Regions from separate parts of the Homo sapiens genome. Here region 2 is linked to region 1. The links come from fine-mapping of genetic effects on gene expression. Tissue or cell type: whole blood. Region 1 holds a variant in brackets; the other region holds the start of a gene. All regions are shown on one strand. Distances are from middle to middle.

Region 1 (10,724 bases):
TCTTGCAGATTCACAGTACACATTAGCTTATAAAAGGAGCAGAGACATCAGTCAAAAAACCTTGAATCTTGTTTAACTCAGCATTTCCCATTTTGGAAACAATTAACTATAACTTACCAAACATTGGAATTGCTATGTCTCGAGCTTTCTGCCTGAGGCTATTTACATAGCCTGTCAAAAGCTGATGGCAAAGAAGTGAAAATTGTAGTCTATATGACATATCTGTTTTTGTCCCTGAGTTAATTTACCCAACCCAATGTTTTGTTTCTTGTTTATGTTAGTTCTGCCTATTCCCACAGCCAGGTTGACTGCTCTTGCCTGGATCTGAAGGTTATATTGAAATGGGGACTCATACCTGGGTCTGTTGGTCTCCAAAGCCTGTATTTTTAACTATGTGATACTCTGCTTAATACTGAGGGCGTTTAAATTCCCCTCAATGGTTGGGTACTTTCATTGTCTCCTATATCAGTCAACTATTCCTATCTGCTAGAAATGAAAAAAGAAAAGAGAGGAAGGGGAGAAGGGAGACAGGGAGAGGGATTAATTTCTTGTAGAAGCATGGGTAAAACTTAATCACAGGGACATTTTTGAGCATTTGTAACTTTATCACAAGTTCTTGCTGTTTTCACAAGTTCCTGGGAGATGTTATGCTTGGAGGTAGGTTAAAAATATTATTTAAAGGATGAAACCTATTCATCTTCCCTGGATAGGGAAAGAATCCCAAAGATGATTATGAAAGAGATAGTCTAGGATTACTCCCTACAAGTTTTCCTGTGGAGCAGCCCCTAAACTGCTCTTCTCAACCTTCATTTGCAAAGCAAAACAGCATTAGTGTAATCAGTCCCCTATCTTTCCCAAATCTGCCTTACCCTAGTAGTTGCAGGGGATATTCAAACAGGAGGCCTGGAGAAAGTGCTTTTGAACAGCAAGCTCCTTTGTTTTCCTCCCTTGCCTCTGACCACTCTGGCTTTTAAATTCTCAAATTTGAATTCTCAAATTAGATTTTGTCTGACCTTTAGCATTGCTTGGCAACTATGAAGAGTCCATTTTCCCTACTGTGGCCACGGTCTGAACCACGCATTCTGATGCTAAGCCACTGCATGTGCCTGACTGACATGACACTGCAGGCTCTTGGCCCCCATTCTTCCCCCGGGAGACAAGTGGCACCTGATGGCATTGCCAACTTCTCACTGGTTAAACTATATTGAATTGTGTCCATTGCCAGCCTCAACTCCCTCCCAGGCAAGGAGGAAGGCCAGGGCTCTGATCAGGGCTGAGGTTTCAGGAGCTGGACTAGTAATGGAGCTGGGGTTGATGAGGAGGTGGGAGGTGGGGTGACTGCTGGGTGGAGCAAAGCAAGCAGCAGCCAAGGTGAGTTTTGAGAAAAGGAGGCCATTTACCACTGGCAAAGAGACTGGAAAGAAAGATGCCTGCTGTGTATGAGGCCAAAGAGCAAGCAGAGAGAGTATTTGAAACAGGGAGGATGGAAAAGAGTCAAGCCTGAAAATCTTCCCATGCTAAGACTGGGTTAGGAGCAGAGGCAGCCCTAGAATTTGTGAACCTGAAGTTCATGCTTTTAAGGAGCCCTCCTTCAGAAACAAAAATGAAATTCCAACTACAAAATATAATATGGGGCTGGGAGCAGTGGCTCATGCCTGTAATCCCAGCAGTTTGGGAGGCCCAGGTGGGTGGATCACTTGAGGTCAGGAATTCGAGACCAACTTGGCCAATATGGCAAAACCCTGTCTCTAGTAAAAATACAAAAATTAACCAGGCGTGGTGGCATGCACCTGTAATCTCAGCTACTCAGGAGGCTGAGGCATGAGAATCGCTTGAACCAGGGATGTAGAGGTTGCAGTGAGCCAAAATTGCGCCACTGCACTCCAGCCTAGGGGACAGAGTGAGACTTTGTCTAAAAAAAAAAAAAAAAGTAGATATGGAAGTGAATATTTATTTAGAATATGAAAAGGAATTAAAACAAATTTGCAGACTTTTAGAAAACTATTATATACCACAGATATCAAAAAATCCCAAAAGGTAAATTAATATTTTATTATGTGGATAACATATACCTGTAATACTGTTTTTTCTGTTTTTTTTGAAACATACACTTTGAATGCCTCTTCATTTGCCAATGATTTTGTAATATCCTGATTTGTGGGAGAGAAGACAGGTAACACAATTCCTCCACTAGGATGATCAATCAACATTGACTTTTAGTATTAATAGTTGGGACGTAAAACTGCAACTGTTTATAGAAGTACTACAGGTTTGTATGCAAATACATAAAAGTCTACTTTGGGTACTTCCCACTGAAAAATATATGGTGCATTTGTTATTGTATATGTTGCATTATTGTGTATATTCCTGACAAGAGAGAATTTCTGTTTTGACTAGGCATTGGTGAAAACTAGATCCTCTGTTTACAATTTTACATATCTGATAACTGGGAGAACTTCCCACAGACTAGCTTCTAGCTCTATATCTTTCAAATTTCAATCTTCATATCCTGCATATTTCTGGTGCTGATGCCATAGGATACATTTATATTGTGACATGACCATCTTTGGGTCATGACCTGAGTGAAGTCAGCACAATGGGCATCAAGAGTATTACTGAAGGCCAGCTCTTCACCATGATGGTTAACAATAATGTAACTATTACCGGAAATAACTTAGGACCACACAAATATATCTCACTAAACCCAAACTAAATATATGCCTAATTTAACTTCCCACTTAGTGAAGTACCCAAGATGCCCATGGCAACTCTAATACCATCTGAGGCTAGTGGAAGTATAACAGAGGGAAAGCTGTAATGAAAAGAGGCATTGGTCTTAACCAGTTGCAGCTCAAATATCTTATGCTTGCAAATTTTGCAAAAATAAATCATGTGAACACTACGGTAGGTCCCTTTCTGGGCATGGGAAGGGAGCAGTGAAAGTGAGAGGTCTTGGACTTTGAGTTTTATGATTATGACAATAAATCATCCTTGCGTTAGGTCAGAGTATTCCAAGCTTCTTCCTATACTAACCAGATAAATGGACACAGATTGTTTCCACCATCGTGATTATTAAATTGTCAAATCAATGATGGTTGAGCCATCTTGGGCACCACACTTCCTCCAGGCATGCAGTGAGGACTGGTCATCTCCGCTGGCCCCTGTGCATGTCTGTTAGGAACAAACACCTCCTGTGTAGTTAGACTTCGCTGACACAGGCTTCTATTTAAGGAGATGACTGTTATTAATAGAAAGAGTGCTAAAACTACTCTAAACAGAAATGGACATGGTTTCAAGTGGACTTTATCAAAATCATCATGGTATACACCCATCTGAAAGTAAAAAGCAAGTTTCACATGAATGATGGGGTCTCTTAAGTGACCACACTGAATTGACCATACAGGCTTTTCTAAGTAAAATGTCTAATCTCAGAAAAGGCAGTACCAGGTGGTCTGATGTTAAAGAGACTTTTGACCATTTCCCACTCTCTTTGCACTGTTAGTCAACAGTCACTGGTTGGTTTTGGGAAATGGTACTGACACTTCATTTCGTTTCTTTTGTTTCCATTGAGGTGGAATTGATGAGCTTGTTTTGCTGTTGATTTTACTGTAACTAGGAAGGTCCTTAAGTGAGGCAGATAAGATGGCAGCAGAAGCTATCAGAGGAGGAGAAAGGAACCTTAGAGATTGTCTTCATTACATAGTGGAGGGAACTAAAACCCCAAGAGGAAAAGTTACACATCAGTTAGAAGAAGCATTACTCAGGGGTAAGCAAGGCAAGTTTCATCTCTGGAATCTAGTCCACTTTGTTTCTGTACTTTCAATCCAAACTAATGTTTCACCAAAGTCCTACTGGAGAAGATGGTTTGGGTAACTATGGAGTAATTCTGGCACCCTCTCCTCAGCCCCAGCTCCCCAATCCCATGCCCCAAAGTGATTGCACCTGCCTTTACACAGGTAAGGCGATTGTCAAAACTTGTATTTGAAAAATAATAATACCAAATGCTTATGTTCATGTGCGTTCCTTAGCCAGTGCTTCCAATGACTGGAACATGTTCAAAATTGCATGAATACTATTTCATAGAAGAGAATAAGATGTGGAAGATAGCTGTATTTTGGTAAATACCAATTAGTAATATGGCATAATTGGAACTTTATAAGATATAAAAAATAAAAAATATTTATAATTTGTAATAATTTACTAAATTTAAAAAGTAGGTATAGTTGTTTAAAGATAAAATTATTTTGACTTTGAATAATGATTAAATAAGTTCCTCTCTGGCTTACTGCTTTCTTATTCACGTGTCTTGTTTGATCAAACAGGGAGCCATAGATACACAGACACTAAGTAAACTTCCATGAACAACCCCAAAAGACAGGTAGACCATCTTGTTACCTAGAAGGCCAATGGTTTCTTGGCAACCAGCATCATGGAGAATGGGCCAGTGACTCTCTGCCCTCACTCTGTGGTGTTTCATGAAGTCATATATACTCTGAGTCAATCCAGGGTGAGTCATATTCCCCTGGGCAGGCAGTTCCCACATTGCAAAAGGAAGGAAGGAAAGGAAGCAAGAAAAATAATAATAACTCGGTGGTTATTGTGTTAAATAAAGTACATTTCAATATGTTGTACCAGGTGGTAAAATTATAGAAGCCAATCTTTTCTGAAAATGCAAGATGCGGTATGTTGGATCAAGTGATTTAAAAAAAATGTAATTGTTTTCAAACTTGTTTATCTTCTGACCTCTTGGAACTGCCTATTAAAAAGAGGAAGCTAATTCCTCTGGCAAACTTTGTGGAAACTTGACACAGAGTCTTAGGGTGGTATTAAAAATGCAACAGGGCATTTTACTCTCAGAGGAGAGCGGGTGTGGTGGGGGACTACGGCCCACTCACTGCTCCAGGTCAGCAAGCTAAGAATGATTTATTTATGGCAAGCATGCTAGATGCCAGCCGCTTCTGGAGGAGCTGAGTGCTCAAGAATGAAGGCCTCAAACACAGGAGATGAATCTCCCATAACCTCTGATGATTTATGAGAGAGTTATTAATTTGATTCTCATTGTCAGGTGATGGATCAAGATACATTTTGAATTTGAGCTATTGTTCTTTCACTTTCTTTGTCTTCAGTAGGATATAGTTTAGATTGTAACTTTCATTAATTGTGTTATAATCCTACAAGTAGCTGAATATGCATTCTTTTTCATCTTCAGTCACTCTATGGCCCCCAAATCATATAAGAAAAATAGATGACTGTTTAGTTAGAGAAGTAAGTTCCCAGAAGCATTTTCATCCAGGCTCACCCCAAGAAACCTACATTCCTGCCACTGTCAAGCGGGTCTGCTCTCCAGATGTGAAGCAAAAGATCACCAAATCTCCATTTCCATTTTACCTTTGCCCTGAAGGTTTGTAACAATACTGAAAGCAAATAACTCAAATCCACAGTGCAAAATTTCCAAATTTATGTAAATTTCTGGACAGGCCTGGTCTTAAACCAAGTGATGATACAGGTAAAATCTCTTTCCAAAGCCACCATTTCCCTCCACTACTTCTTGTTTTCCCCTTCCTTGTTCTCCCCTCTTTATGTACCCTCTTTGGGTACTACTCTCGGAAAAGAGCCTGTCAAGTGCAGTCATTCCAGGGAATAAATATGATCTGAGGTGGTTATTTTTATCAAGGTATTTTCCTTTTTTATTAGTCAAAAAGCCTCAACTGGAGCAAGGAACCCTTTGTAAAACTTCAAGCCACAACAGATGGCATCTTC[C/T]AAGGAAAGAACCTTTGAAGCATTCACAGGTGACTACCACAGAGACCCTCATGGGTGACTACTGTGCTAATGGCTGCTTTTGAATTTGGGCAGCTCCGCAGGTAGATACCAGGCACTATTTTGCTCCCAGCATTGTAGTTGTTTCTTTTCTCCCACAAGCATATGGAAGCAGGCAATGCATCTTATCCAACTTCGCCTACCCCACAACACACAGCAGAGGACATTGCACACAGCAGGCTGACTGGCATCCGATGAATCTGTGAACTGAAGAGTGGGCTGTCCCTCCTTTTAAGAATGCAATGATAAACTCTGCTGCCCTCTGCAAGTTAGATACAGAGAGCTCCTTGCCATACCTCAGTGTAGAGCACCACCTCCCTCCTCATTTTTCACATTGGTGAATGGAGACATAGCACAGTGCATGAGCTGCCCTCAGGAAGTAAATGAAGCACAAGTGAAGGGACATTCCTTTCTTCCCATCTCCACAGTTCAGATTTTGTGTGTGTGTGTTGCCTGAACTGTACTCTGAAGTGGCTCCTAAACTTAGCTTCTTCTAACTGCTACAATTACCCTCTGACTTTGAAACAACTTTCTCCACCTCAATATAAAAAGTGAACCTAGTACATTAGGAGTTTGCCTTATGTGATTTGGCAGCACAAAAGTTCCAAAATAAGTTGACCTGTTATACTTCCACCACCTCCAGCCTTTCTCTATCTCACCACCAGCCCTATCATTTTTCCTGTACTTTGCAGGTATTTGAGAACATGGTGCATAAGCAAATGAAGACATTAACCTGGTTTCACAATCTAGTTCCCTTCTGTGTAATTATAGGCCAGCTTCTTAAAACTTCTAATCCTCACTTTTCTCATCTATAAAATAAGAAAATACAATACATGCTTTATAAGGCTATAGCAAAGAGTAGATGAACCAATGTATACAAAGTACCTAGCACAGTACATGGTACACAGAGGGTGCTCAATAACTGTACATCATTATCAGCACCGTTAATAGTCTCATCATCACTGTTGCATCTAGTAACTGCAACCAACTCTGTTGGTGCTAATGACGCAAAGTCATTAGGAGTGATTTATGGGTGGGCTATGTAGAATCAGAAGGTAAAAATCCCTGCAAATTACACACTTCTGAAATATATCTCTGTTTTTCAGTCAGCAACCTTGCTCCTTGGAAACAAAATCACATAAGCAAGAGAGAACGTGCACCCAGAAGCATGTGCCTTGGCCCTCCCACTTGGTGGACATTGTGTTTTACCTGTTGAGGGAGGCATGTAGTAGAGCACAGAAGGTCTGAGTGTCTGAGGTCTGGATTCTAGCTTTGTCTCTATTGCCAATGGTTAGCAGGGTGACCTTGACTAAGTGCCCCATCTCTCTGAGGTTCTGCATCCTCACCTGGCAAACAGGAACCGAGACTCAATACTCCATGTCATCTTGGGCTCGGGTACATGTAGTCCATGTTTTGTTTAAACACATAGTCTGTGTTTTGTTGCTGATGTATCTACTTCCCTCCTTTTTTGTTCTTTTCATTGTCTCATTGAGAGGGCAAGGCAAGGATGAAAACAAACAGGAAAACAGCACCCTCTAGGGTTTTTCAGAGGCATGACTGTACTGATGATGTGTGACGTGCTGGAGTATGAAGGACATCTGGCTAAACACCCCGAGTGGCCTCAGTGCCTCCCAAGGCCTGCCTGCCCCACCTCCTAGGTGGGCCATTCAGTCTTGTTTCTATCTTGAAGGGAATTTAAATAAATTTATTTTGAAAAAAGAAAAAACTACCCAAAACAAAAACAAAAAAAACCTACAGAACTTGGGGAAATTATTGAAAAAAAAATTAATTTCAACTTCATAAGCCATTTTCTATTTCAAAGATAAGTTTGTTATTGAATGCAGAAATACAACCTTTTTAATGCTTTCATTGAAATAGTTAAGAAACTGTTCAGAATATTTAAGCAAGGCAAACGAGCATTTTATTAATTCAATATTTTAATTTTTAAAAAGAGTGATTTTGAAAGCCCATTTTAGTTTGGTTTTGGATTTATTATTCTCCTTCCTGACATGAGACAAAAATCAATAAAAGAGAACATTATTCTCTCCTAGAAAACAGAGTCACAGCAAGTCAAAAATCACCTGGTCTAATATTCCCATTATATAGATAATGAAACTGGTAGTCCAGTGCCTTTGTTTCTAATTGAGAGCTTCTAGTGCTTTTTGGTGGAGTAGACATAATAGTGATGGCAGTGACAAGACTCAATACAAAAAATTATAAACATTAACTTTATTATTAACAAATAATAATAAACATTAACTCTGTGTCAGGCACTCTGCCATATCTTACCTGGAGCCCCTCATTTAATCTTTGCAACCACCCAACAAGTTAGTTGCTATTGTTACTCCCATTTTATAGTTGATGAAATGTAAGCATAGAGAAGTTAGGTAACTGTTCTAAAATTCAAAACTTATCAATACTCGGGGCTTTAGGTATACAACCACAAACCTAACTCACATTCAAATGAGCAGACATGTAATTAAATTGATACCACTGGGCTTTTTATGACCTCTAATTTTTTGGTTTTGAAACAACAACCAAAAAAATCCCTGTTTTCTTTTGAAACTTCTTCCTAAGCATTGTGAGGATAAAGTGAGGAACGAAGAACTGGGATGAGCAATAAAAGGTAGGCTGTAAACAGACTCTAAGGAAAGGAGTGGGGAGGTGGCCTGTCTCAATATTAGTTAGTTAGGAGCCAGTTATTTGGACTGAGGTATAGTTTGCAATTCAACCACGACCCTGCATGAGTTAATGGGACCATTAATTATTTACAAAAGCATAATGATAGTAATGGTGTTGGTTTTTCTTGCATGCAATGCAAGGTATAGCAGTTAAACTTATTTTGGAAATATAAAGAAAAAGCTTAATTAATATGAAACCTTTATTAAACTCTATGCACCTGCAATTATATTTTCTTCTGTTATTTGGTAAAAGCACACAAATGCACACTCTCTGAACACATAGCTTTGTGTATTCTAACATAGTTTTTCATATGCATATTTCCTCATATTTCACTTTCAATAGCTACATAATATTATTCCACCATCTTGATGTATCACAATTTTCTTAGTCATTTCCCTATTGCTGAGGCTTTTGTATTGTTCCCAGTTATAAATAACACTGCTATACTATTTACAGACCATTTTTAATTTGGGGGATTTTTTTATGTATGTTCCCAAGAGCTTAACTTCTGTGTCAAAGTGTACAACATATCATATCTTTTGGTAGATTGCTTTCTAGAAAGACTAACAAATTGCAAGACCAATAACATTGCATTTGTAGTATTCCATTTTTCTGATTTATCCACTACAACTGCCACAACTGCTACAACTGCTATTTATAATTTTAGCTTTTTTTAAAAAAACCACAATACTATCACCATTGCCCCCTGCACCACAGCCACTACTATCACCATCTCCTTCATCAACACAAGAAACACCAACACCATTACTATTATCAGCTACCGTCGACATCAACATCACTACCAACAACATCGTCATCCACCACCACCATCATCAACTTCACGAACACCACCACCACCCCACCATCAGCATCATTATCACCTTTATCAATGCAACCTCTACCACATCACCATCATCATTCACCACCATCATCATCATCAAGCCCACTACCAACAATGCCAGCGCCATTACTTTCACCACCACCACTATTACTGTGTTCCGCTACCATTACCACCACCTGTACTACTATCTGTACCACCACCAAGCCTCATCCACCATCATTCCCATCACCTCCACCAATGCCATCACCATGATCAGCTATTATCACCATTATTAACACTATGAGCAACAAATCAAATACTACCAATCGCGTTGTCTTCAACAACACCACCAACAAACAACAGTGTCATCACATGCTACCGTCACCATCATTTTCACCACCACCATTACCAGCACTAGTACCATCATCATTATCTTCCACCACCACTATTGCTGCCTACCATTAACGGAAACATTCAATATGTGCCAGATACTGTACTGAATGGTTTATTTACATTAATCATTTTATCCTCACACTAATCCTTTAAGTATAATAGCTGTATGCTACTGATTAGAAAATGGATGCTGAGAGGTTGGGACCCTGAATCAAAGACACAGCTAAAAAGTGGCAAGGCAGGATCCATATCTACATCTATCTGATTCCAAAGCTCATTGTCTGAATTGCCAGGGTTTACAGTTACTTAACTGATATGCTGTGGTGTTTTAAAGGTTTTTTGTTTACATCTCTTTAGTTGCTATTGAGACTGAACATTTTTCCATGTGCTGATTTATTGTCTGCATTTCCTTATGTGTATGCCCTCCATTTATTTCCTATGATCTCATTTTGAAGAAAAGCTGAATACTGACCTTAATTAGATGAATTCTCTGTTCATTTCTTAAGAGTAGAGCTTCCTTTTTAACATTTATAACTTACAATTTTTTAACTTCCTTACAATCCCTTTTGTTTTTTATTCCAACATATCTGTTTTATTTATAATTATATCTCAGCAAATCAGAAATGTTTTTTCTTCTTTAATTGAAAATAATATGCTTATTTTATTCGTTTTCTTTTTATGTTTATTTTATGCTTATGTTTATTTTGCTTTGACCAAAATTTATTATAATATATAATATGAGGAATGAATCTAATGCCGTCTCTGCACCATGACCTGATTGTCCTCTGTATTAAATACTGATCACTTCTTGCCTATGTATATCTGGTTTTTTTAATGTAATAAGTTCTTATTATGGTCTAAATTTACTTTGGAAATATCTATTGTCTCCACCCATCTTTTTCCTGCTTTTAACTGAATGTCATGATGTTTTGGTAATTGTCACATATTTTAAAATCCAGAAGGTAAATACCAATCCCTTTAGAAAAAATAAATTTAGTATATTTTCCCTCAT
Region 2 (10,724 bases), 28 kb after region 1:
TTTATGTAAACATAAGTTTTCATTTCTCTTGGATAATACCCAGAAGATGGTAAGTGGGCCATATAGTAAGTGTACATTTGACTTTATATGAAAATGCCAAACTGCTGTCCAGAATGACTGTACAATTTTGCATTCCTACCATCAATGTATGAGAGTTCCAGTTGCTCTGTATTCTTGCTCACACATGGGATTATCATGAATGCACATTGTAACCATTCTAATAGGTATATTGTGGTATCTCTTTATTTGCATTGCTCTACTGAAGAACGTTGAGCATATTTTCATGTGTTTGCCATTGGTAAGTCTTCTAGGTTAAAGTGTCTGCTCAGATATTTTGCCTATTTTTTTAGCTGGGTTTTTTTTTTTTTTTTTTTTTGAGTTGTAAAAATTCTTTACAAATCCTGGATACAAGTCCTTCACTTCCTCCTCTTCTCATTACTGGAAGAGATTGCATGGAATTGGTGTTATTCTTTCTAAAATGTTTAGTAGAATTCATTAATGAAGGTATATGGGGCTGTAGTTTTCTTTTCTTGGAGGGCTTTCAACTATGAATTTAATATGTTTAATAAATATAGGACTATTCAGGTTATCTACTTCTCATTGAGTGAATTTTGTTAGTCTGTGTCTTTTATCCATTTTATCTAAATGGTCTAATTTATGTTCAGAGAGTTGTTTGTAGTACTCCCTTATCTTTTTGTATCTGTGAAGTTCATAGTTGATATCCCATCTTTTGTATCTAACATTGATAATATATCTTCTCTCTCTAGTTTTTTGGTAAATCTAGTGAGAAATTTATCAACTTTATTGATCTTTGATAAAAACCAGCCTCTAGTATTATTGATTTTCTCTATTGTTTTATTTTTTCTTCGATTTCATTAATTTCTGTTTTTATATTTATTATTTTATTATTTTTGCTTGCTTTGGTTTTAGCTGGCTGTTCTTTTTTCTAGTTCCATAAAATGGAAGCCTAGATTATAAATTTCAGAACTTTATTATTTTCCAAAATAAGTGTTTTATGTATAAATTTCTACTAAGCGTTGCTTTAGCTGCATCTCACAAATTTTGATATGTTGTATGTTCATTTGAATTCAGTTCAAAATATTTTTTAATAATCCTTGAGGCTTCCTTGTTGATCAATGAATTTCTTAAAGTGTGTTGCTTAATTTCCAAATAACTGGAAGTGTTTTGGATATCTTTCTGGATATTAATTTAATTGATTCCATTATGGTCAGAGAACATACTTTGTATAATTTCATTATTTTAACGTAATGAAGTTTGTTCTGTGACCCAGAATGTGATCTCTTTTGGTAAATGTTCCATATATATCTGACAATAGTGTATATTATGTTGTTGTTTGGGTGGGATATTCCACAAATGTTCATAAGGTCAAGGTTATTGATAGTGTTGTTTAGGTCTTCTATATTCTATATTCTTATGGATTTTTTGTCTACTTGTGCTATAAATTACCAAAAGAGGAGAACTGAAGTCTCTAACTATAATTCTGTATTTCTCTTTCTCCTTTCAGTTCCATCAGCTATTGTTTCATCAATATTGAAGCTCTGTTATTAAGTATATATGCATTTAAGGTTGTTCTATCTTCTTGGTGAGCTGGCTCTGTTATTATTATTATTATTATGTAATGTCTCTATTCCTGATAATTTCCTTTTTCTGAAGTCTATTTTGTCTAATAGACTTACATTAATATATGTTTATATATTATTAATAATTATATTAATTTAGAGGTTAGCTTTCTTTTTTTTTTTTTTTTTTTTGAGACGGAGTCTCGCTCTGTCGCCCAGGCCGGACTGCGGACTGCAGTGGCGCAATCTCGGCTCACTGCAAGCTCCGCTTCCCGGGTTCACGCCATTCTCCTGCCTCAGCCTCCCCAGTAGCTGGGACTACAGGCGCCCGCCACCGCGCCCGGCTAATTTTTTGTATTTTTAGTAGAGACGGGGTTTCACCTTGTTAGCCAGGATGGTCTCGATCTCCTGACCTCATGATCCATCCGCCTCGGCCTCCCAAAGTGCTGGGATTACAGGCGTGAGCCACCGCGCCCGGCCCAGCTTTCTTTTGATTAGTGTTTGCATGGCAGGGGCTTTTCCATCCTCTTACTTTTAATTTATCAATAACATTGTGTTTGAAGTGAATTCTGTAACAGCATATAGTTGGGTCTTCTTGTTGCTTTTTTATGCAATCCAACAATCTTCAGCTTTTAATTTATGTGCTTAGACCATTTATATTTAGCTTAAGTATTAATATGGTTATATTTAGGTGTACCATTTTATTATCAGTTTTCTATTCTCTTCCTCTTTTCTGCCTTTTAGATTATTTGAATATTTCTTGTCATTCCATTTTAGCTTATCTGTTGGCTTTTTTTTTTTTACTATACTTTTGTTTTATAACTCAAATAGCTGTTTCTTTAGGGATTACAATACACATACCTAGTTTTTCTCAGGCTACTTAGAGTTTACTATATCAAGTAAAGTATATAAACCTTACAACTGTATAAATTCCTTGCCCTTTACCCTTTATGCTGCAGTGGTCATATTATTGAATCTAAATATATTAAAAATGCTATCAGATATGTTATAGTTTTCACTTTCAACAGTCATACAAAAATATGAATGTCACACAGATTTGCATGTCACCCTTTCATTGGAGCCATGCCAATCTTCTCTGTATGGTTTCCATTTTAGAATATGTGCTGCCAAAGTGAGCACTAAATGTGTTTTTAAAGTACTTTCCTGGTAAAAATTTATTCAAAACTTGCACCACATTTGTGAAACTATGGGCTGGAATTAGACATATAGTGTTTTTCTCCAGACAAAGCTAGAATTGACTCTAACCAATTATTCTTTAACATTAAAGGGTACAAAGTAAAGTCCTTTTATCTTGAGCTAAGGCATAATATGAAATTGAAAATGGAAAATATGCACAGAAATAGTTTATGACCAAAGAAGAATTATTTTTTTTGCAGCATGAAGCTTTATAATATCAAAACTATAAGTTATCTGCAGGGATGTCCAAATGGGAGATATTTCCTATAAAATGTTATTGAAAGAGATCTGTCCAAATTTACAATAGCAGTAGATATTTGGAGAAGATAAAATGAAAGTTAACTCTGATAGGTTTGGGATTAAGGAAAGAGAAGTCATACCACACATTGTTTAGATCATAGCCAAGGAAATGATCGAAAATACGTGTAACACATTTTTCATTAAAACAAAAAACAAAAAACCAAAACCCTCGAAGACATTTTATGCATATAATTTTATTTGCTACTGCCACATTGCCATTAAGAATATTGCCTACACTTCAGTGCAGGGATGTTCTGAGTCTGTGCATCATGCAGCGAAGGCACCAGTCTCCCTCTGTAACCTTGGTCCTTCCCTAAAGTATGTAGTCATTGGTGCAGAATGTACAGCTGTGAAGGTGACTGTTTCTCTAAAGGCTTTGGTGATGTAAGCCTGAAGCCAAGCAGGAGGAAAGCAATTAAACATCACCTTGATTAAGTTATAATGTACCAAGAGAGTTGCACGTTGGGCTTGGTGACTGCTTTCTTCAGGAAGGAGGAATTTGCACTGAGAGTCTGTGGGGACACAGCCTGCCATAAAGGGTAGTGAGGACATCTTTCCCTTTTCTTTGCCTATCAGATGCCTGACCTTTCAGGAAGGTTCAGCTAAAGTGCCTTTTGCTCCATGAAGCCTTTTCCTCTCCTCACCCCAACCATGGTAAATAGTATCTTTACGTGACAGCTTGTATAGCTCCTTCATCTTCCCAATTCATGTGGCAGCCTTAGTTTTCATTTCATGTAACTATTATTCTGAAAGGGATTTTGATCTCTGTTAAGACCGTTAAAACCATGCCTTTGTTTCCTCAAAGTGTGCACTTCCATAGTGTGCACTAAGAAAAGCAGTTTGTAGAGCAGTTGAGAGGACAGGCTCAAGTCTGTCTGGGTTTAAATCCTGACTTCACCATTTCCTAGCTGAATGACTAGGGATAAGTTACTTAAATACTTCATGTCTCAGTTTCCCCACTTGTAAAATTGGGATCATTATACTATTTGTAAATATTATACAAGTTCACACATGTAAAGTGCTCAACATTTTTGCCTAGCACATAATAAGTATTATTACTTATTTTTTTATTAAGCGATAAATTTTTTAATAAAGCTATTAAACAAATACATGTTTTTAGTAAGGAAGGACATAGCACAAACAGGATTAATTAAAGAGAAGGCAAAGAAGACAAAGAGAATTCCACCAGATTCTGGTGCAAAACATTCAATAATTATTTTTTAAAGAACTGAAGGGTGGGAATGTCTGTTGGTGCAACCACTTTAGAAAACCTATGGCAGTGTTTACACAAGGAGAGCATTCTTATACACTACAACTCAGCAAGTCCACTCCTAAGTATACATCCAAGAGAAAAGTGTCTGTGAATCCAACCAAAAGATGTTTGATAGAGAGAATGTTCGTGACAGAGTAGTCATGATAGTCACCTGCACAAATGTCCATTGACAGAAGAATGAATAAGTAAGTGTGTCGGTGAAAATGGATGATACACAACTACACATAGCACAATGGATGAATCTCACAAACATAGTAATGAGCGAAAGAAGCCAGACACCAACATTCCAGGCAAAAAGATCCTATGCTGCTACAAGCCAGAATAATGGTTACCCTGGGACAGTGGAGACGGGAGAAAAGATGTGGAGAGGAGAGAGCAGGAGGAGCTTCTAGGGCTGTGGCTAACATTTTATTCTTCATCTGGCGCTCGTTACATGGGTGGGTTGGATTGTGAAAATTCATTGAGGCATACACCTAAGATATGTGCATCTTTTCTGTGTTTGCATCCTACTTCACTAAAACAACCAGAAGAGAACGGGAATGAAGTAAGATCAGAAAATAAAGGAAGAAATAGAAAGAAAATGAAAGAAGGGAGAAGAAAAATAAACAAACCCAGAAGGCTGAAAGGCATGGAAGCCGCACCTGACCGGGTTGACTCACCCCTCTGCCCCAGGAGCCACCCCTGCCCTGCCCTGCCCGTCCCCAGCACCCTACTCTCCTTTTGCTTAGCCCAAGGATGGCAAATGCCCCTTTTGGTGGGGGTTCTGAGCATCACTAAGACAGGAAGGGCTTTCCAAGTGGGTAAGGCTGGTAGTGGAGTAACTCGGAGGAGCTGACGCTTTATTAAAGAAACAGAAGACTTGAGAGCCATCTCCTCTCTTCCTTCCCCTTCCCCTTTCCCCTTCCTCTTCCCCTTCCCCTTTCCCCTTCCTCTTCCCCTTCCCCTTTCCCCTTCCTCTTCCCCTTCCCCTTTCCCCTTCCTCTTCCCCTTCCCCTTTCCCCTTCCTCTTCCCCTTCCCCTTCTCCTCGACTCTTTCTGCCTTCGCCTCATTATCCGCCCCCAGGACATCCTCTTGGCCTTGGTGGCTTTGCCAGGACCAGCTCTGTCTCCGCCTCCTGCCCTGCGGGGTCTTGGGGCGGGGGGCCGTGGCCCGGCCCAGGCCCGAGCTGCCGGGGTGTCCCCGCCGCGTCCCCGCCCGGCTGACCCCGCCCTGCAGCCGCCGGCTATTTTGGGCGCGTTGGCGGCGGCGGGATCGCTGACAGTCGCGGATCCTGTGACACCTCCGGGCAGCCCGGCACTTGTTGCTCCCACGACCTGTTGTCATTCCCTTAACCCGGCTTTCCCCGTGGCCCCCCGCCTCCTCCCGGCTTCGCTCCTTTTCATGTGAGCATCTGGGACACTGATCTCTCAGACCCCGCTGCTCGGGCTGGAGAATAGATGGTTTTGTGAAAAATTAAACACCGCCCTGAAGAGGAGCCCCGCTGGGCAGCGGCAGGAGCGCAGAGTGCTGGCCCAGGTGCTGCAGAGGTGGCGCCTCCCCGGCCCGGGACGGTAGCCCCGGGCGCCAACGGCATGACAGACTCGGCGACAGCTAACGGGGACGACAGGGACCCCGAGATCGAGCTCTTTGTGAAGGTAGGTCGGGGTCCAGTCTCCCGCCGCACCTGCCGCGCCTCCCGCCGGGCTCACCCACCAGGGCTCGGGGTGCGCTGGACTCCGGACCCTCCCAGGAGGGCGGCGCGGAGCCCTGTGCTCCCCCGTGGCCTTTCCGCAGGCCAGCGCCCCGCTGCGAGGCTCCTGGGCGGAATGGAGGAAGGCAGGTTCCGGCAGGTGGCCGTCTTCTCGGAGAGTTGATCCGCAGTTTGTCCACCCCCGTCCCCGCCTCCGCTGTCACCGCTGCGAGTCCGAGTCCAGAGCCCAGCCCGGACGCGATTCAGGCTGGTCCTGAAAGACGTCTCCAGGTGTCGGGATGCGGCAGAAACCTGGCTGGACCCGTGAACCTTTCCTTTAAAACGGGAGGAGGGGGAGGAATGGGAGAGAAACGTTATTGACACAATGATCTTTGGCAAAGCGAAAATGACATTTCTTAAAATTCTCTTTCTCTCTTTCGCTCAGAGATCCTAAAATAAAAGCCAAGGAGACAAAAGTGTTTTCTTGCTTGGTGACTTGCAAAGCAGAAAACAAGCACTCCATTCTCCGACGTTATTATTTTTGTCATAATCATGATTTTTCAAGGCAGTATCAAGGAAATGTTAGGCGTTTGGTAGTAGGGAGAGCCTCCCGTTCAACCTGATGCAGACAGGGATGAAGGAGCACAGTGCAAATTAAATGAAGTCACCTTGCTCCTTGGACAGAAACTGCCTAATGTCAGAGCTGCTGTACTTTATTTGCAACCTGTAGGAGGAAGGATGGAGGCGAGGCTGCGGCGGCGTTTCCCGGTCCGCCGGTGTAAGGAGAAAGAAACATTTGATCAGCCCTTGGTGCCGACGCTGCAGAAGTAGGGAAACCTGAGGCTGCGGGAGAGTAGCCTCCAGGGCTGAGCAGAAACAGTCGCCAGGACTTGGGGGAGGGGAAGTCGGGGACTGCCTGGGCGCCAAGACCTTTCACAAAGGGGGAAAACTCTCTCAGTGCAAAGTTTCCCTAGAAATATGCAGATCGCTGAGAAGGGAAGAGTCACTGGTGCCTGTCAGGGGCCTCCTGGCAGAATTTAAAAGGCATAAATATTCCCTGGAATTGGGAAAATGTTATTTTGCCCAAAAGATCCTTCTCTACAAGCTAATTAAATAGATGTTTGCAAAAAGTATGAGATCTACATAAACCTTGATAACAATCTGTGGTCTTTGGTACTTTCTGACTCTTAAAATGTGACTTACTTTACACTTGGTACGTGATCTGTCTCCGTTGTCCCAGCCTACCACAAAGGTTTGTTAAATTTCTTCTGCTGGGTTTTACATTCTTTGTGTTTATTTTTCAAGCTTACACCTGACATTTAGTGACACTTGCTTTCTTCAGCCTGTTCTCTTCCCACTGTGGCCCCTGTGTGCTCCTTTGGTTTCTGGGACTCCCCCCACCCCCACCCCAGGCTGGATTTCCAGGTCCTTTGGCAGACCCAGGTAATAAAGGAGGTCATTTCTCGTCTGATGCTGGGTAGTGTTGGACCTTAGGGCAGCAAGGGGGTGTTCTGAACCCCAGCATCCAGGCCTGGGCCCTAGGGGTGAATAGGGAGAGCTTTAACAAAGCGATGAGTCTTGCTGCTCTCCTTGAAGAAAGCGATTCTAGGACTTACTCAGATTCCTTGAGAGTGGTAGTTTCAAGGTGTCAAGTTTCTGAAAGATATTTGAAACACAAATAGGTTCTTTAGAACCAAAGGAGCCCTTTGCCCCACTCCTAGGTGTGGAGACCGATTCTACCTGCACCTTTGGAATTTTCTTGTTGGCAGTGTTGGAGAGTCTCTCCATTTATATAAAAACCTTACTGCACAATTTGCAGCGTTCCCCAAATAATTCTAAAATGACTGTGTTGTCATTTGTTTTTTCCCTAAAGGAAATCAATGAGAGCCAGGCAGGCCTTCATGGCTAGCTCAAAAACCAGATTGATGGGGAGATCAAAACATCAGGTATGAAAGTTGTTTTGACTCCTCCCTCAACCCCATCTTTTTGAGCTTCAGGTTAGCAGTTCTCATTTACAAGTAAATGGGACAAGTAAAGGCTAGAAATATTGTGAAATAAAGATGCTGCCCAGGCCTTACTTGAACTGTGTCATTTGAGGGAAGCAATATCCTTGTTGACAGAATCACACTTTTCCAAAGTTTGGAGTTTCTCTGAGGTACATGATTCCCCATAAAAAGAAAGGCCTTCTTGTTGATGGTGTCAGGTAACTGAAGCTCTTTCTGCAGGGCAGGGTGGGTTGGTTTCTATGAAGACTTCCAAGAAGGATGGGTCCCACCCAGTTATAGTCATGACTTGGTCATTTTCAACACCCCCTTGGAAGGACCTCCCAACCTCTTGTTTCCACTGGGTGTACCACTCTAAATCACAGTCACCTAATGAGTTTCACAATGACATGTAATTGTAATTGTCTCCCACGTCAATTGATAGTCATTATCTGTTACTACTACTGCTGATAATGATAATGATAAGAAGAAGGAAAGATTGCAGCATATTAGGACATAATAAGTATGTTCAAATACCTTATCTCATTTGATCATCAGCAACTTTATAAGGCTTGATTCACTTATGTGAAAGATAAAGAAAACAAATAAACTGGATTCACAGGTACCTTATGAGACTCGCTGTCAGAGCACTTGATGAGCTGCAGTTTGCTCTTCTTGTAACAGCCCAGGGAACTAAGAATGATAATTCCTCCTGTTCTGTTGAACAATACATGTGCTCACAGAAAGTAGGTAAAATGCCCAAAGGTAGATGGCAGATAGCATTCAGATCCAGTCCTCAAATCTAGCAGTTTAGACTTTGAATTTCTTGCTCTTTTCCAAATACCTATATGTCAGGCCTGATACCTTATTTTGCCAAGTTAGGCTTTCAAGTGCCATCATGGTGACATTTATTTATGTTATTAATCCATTCTAATGTGTTCATAGAATGCTTCCAAGGAGACTAACCCATTTCTGCTATGTACTCCGAGTCTTTCCCTTTCGGGGAACATTCTGACAGTGACTTTTAAGAGATTATTTCCCCACATTTTTAGTTTCTACAATAAGAAATGTTAGATCATGTCAACTCTGATTCTAATGTCCCATAATACCTGTGGATGGCGCAGGGATTTGGAGATGCAGTACCTGAGTTCAAGTCTTGCCTCTGCCTCTAATTAGCTAAATGATCCTGAACAAATTATTTAACTTTCAGGAGCCTCACTGGCCCTCTTAAAACAAGAGCATGGTTATAAATAAGGAGACCATATAATTTATTGTCCAAATCTAGACACTTTTGAGAGTGAAAGGGAATGATATCAATAATTAGGCTGGAACCACAGGTATAACCCAGGATAGTTTGGGAGCAAATAAGGATGTGTGGTCATTCTGGTTATGAAAATACTGTCATTGTAGATTTGCTGTGAGGATTCCATGGGAGAACATAGGTGAAAACACTTTGTAAATTGAAAATTGCTGTAAACACACTGACTTGAATATTATGAGTCCCATGGCAGACTGAACCTTTCTGGACCTGCACGTCCCTGATTTGCCTTGGGGAACAAAGGCCTGGCTCCTTCCTCACTTGCAGGGATATTTTGAGAGTAAATGAGATAATATGTAGCTTGGACTTTGATCCTAAGAGGAGGACAACAGGCTAGAGGTAATGGCAGTGAGTGTGGTTTATTGAAAGAAATAGAGCAAGGAAGTAAAAGCAAAACAGAAAGCAATTTGAAAAGACAAACACAGGATGTGCTGTGTAGGTTAGATCAAGGCATTCCACCCATTTGCATTGCTTCCTCCACTCCCAGTCTCACCCCTGGACCCCAGAAGTGACTAATGATACAGACAAGCTCGCCGCAAGTGTCTCTTCAGCCAGGAACTGAGGTTTCAACAGAAACCAGTGGTTCTCAGCCTTCACTACCTATTCAATCCATTGAGAGAGATTTTAAAACTTCTGATGGCAGTTTGCTCCCCAAGCCGATTACATCAGTGTGTCTGTGGGTGGGACCCTGAAACAATATTTTCATATCCACTCTCAGGTGGCTCCAGCGTGCAGCCCTGGTGGAGAGCCACTGAGTCATAATCAGAGGCAGGTCCAATAGCAGGCAGCTTCTGCCACCGCTGACATAGGTGGCCTTGCTAATGCTGATTAAATGTCCAGAACTTCTAACAGCCTCAGGGCATCACGGTCAGAAGTGTTGTTGATAGAAAGCTTGCATCCAATCACTGCCCAGTTAACAGATGCTGACGAACTATTAAGCCCTATCCACAGGACTCCAGAACAATCGTGTATAGGGTTGGTCTAGTCAAAGAATCATCAATTCAGCATGGGGGAAGTAAAACAGAGTTCTGCTAATTGTCTGATGGAAACGACTAGTCTTTCATTTATTGAGTGGCCCAAAAGTTTCTGAGTGGTGCAGGGTGCAATACAAGTTGTGGTGACTCGTGGTGTGGTCATCTGACTTCCAGAACAGATAGGATCAGATCTTGTGGTGTCGCCTCTATGTCCCTGAGCTACTGTGACTGCCTGGTCACCTTGGGCCGCTTGCCTAAGCATGAGCTCACTAGGTTTTTAAAGTTCCCTTCATCATATTAAGCTACTGTGTTTTTCTTTCCCACTATCTTCAGGTTTTGATCTGTAGTCAATAACGCAATACACAAATTTGCCTGCCCTGCTATGGCAGTGAGTGCTTCTTCTCCTGGTAACACATCCCTGGAGAGCTAG

Evidence for each region. PIP is the estimated chance that this variant, and not a neighbour inherited with it, causes the effect.
Region 2: it holds the start of CLIC5, and the variant in region 1 is fine-mapped to the expression of CLIC5 in whole blood (INTERVAL, PIP 0.93).

What each region holds. Positions count from the first base shown.
Region 1 is chr6:46,039,212-46,049,935 of GRCh38, reverse strand. It overlaps a transcript of CLIC5 not described here. Among named protein-coding and RNA genes, the nearest start is that of CLIC5, 29 kb to the right of the region's middle. The variant C/T (reference allele first, on the strand shown) is at 5,761.
Region 2 is chr6:46,010,741-46,021,464 of GRCh38, reverse strand. It overlaps CLIC5 (chloride intracellular channel 5), which reads left to right and starts at 5,605. Exons shown (of 6, transcript NM_016929.5): 1 at 5,605-5,985. The coding sequence starts at 5,923. It also overlaps the pseudogene RNU6-754P. RefSeq lists enhancers at 4,803-5,647, 5,648-6,492, 9,921-9,970 and a silencer at 5,905-5,954.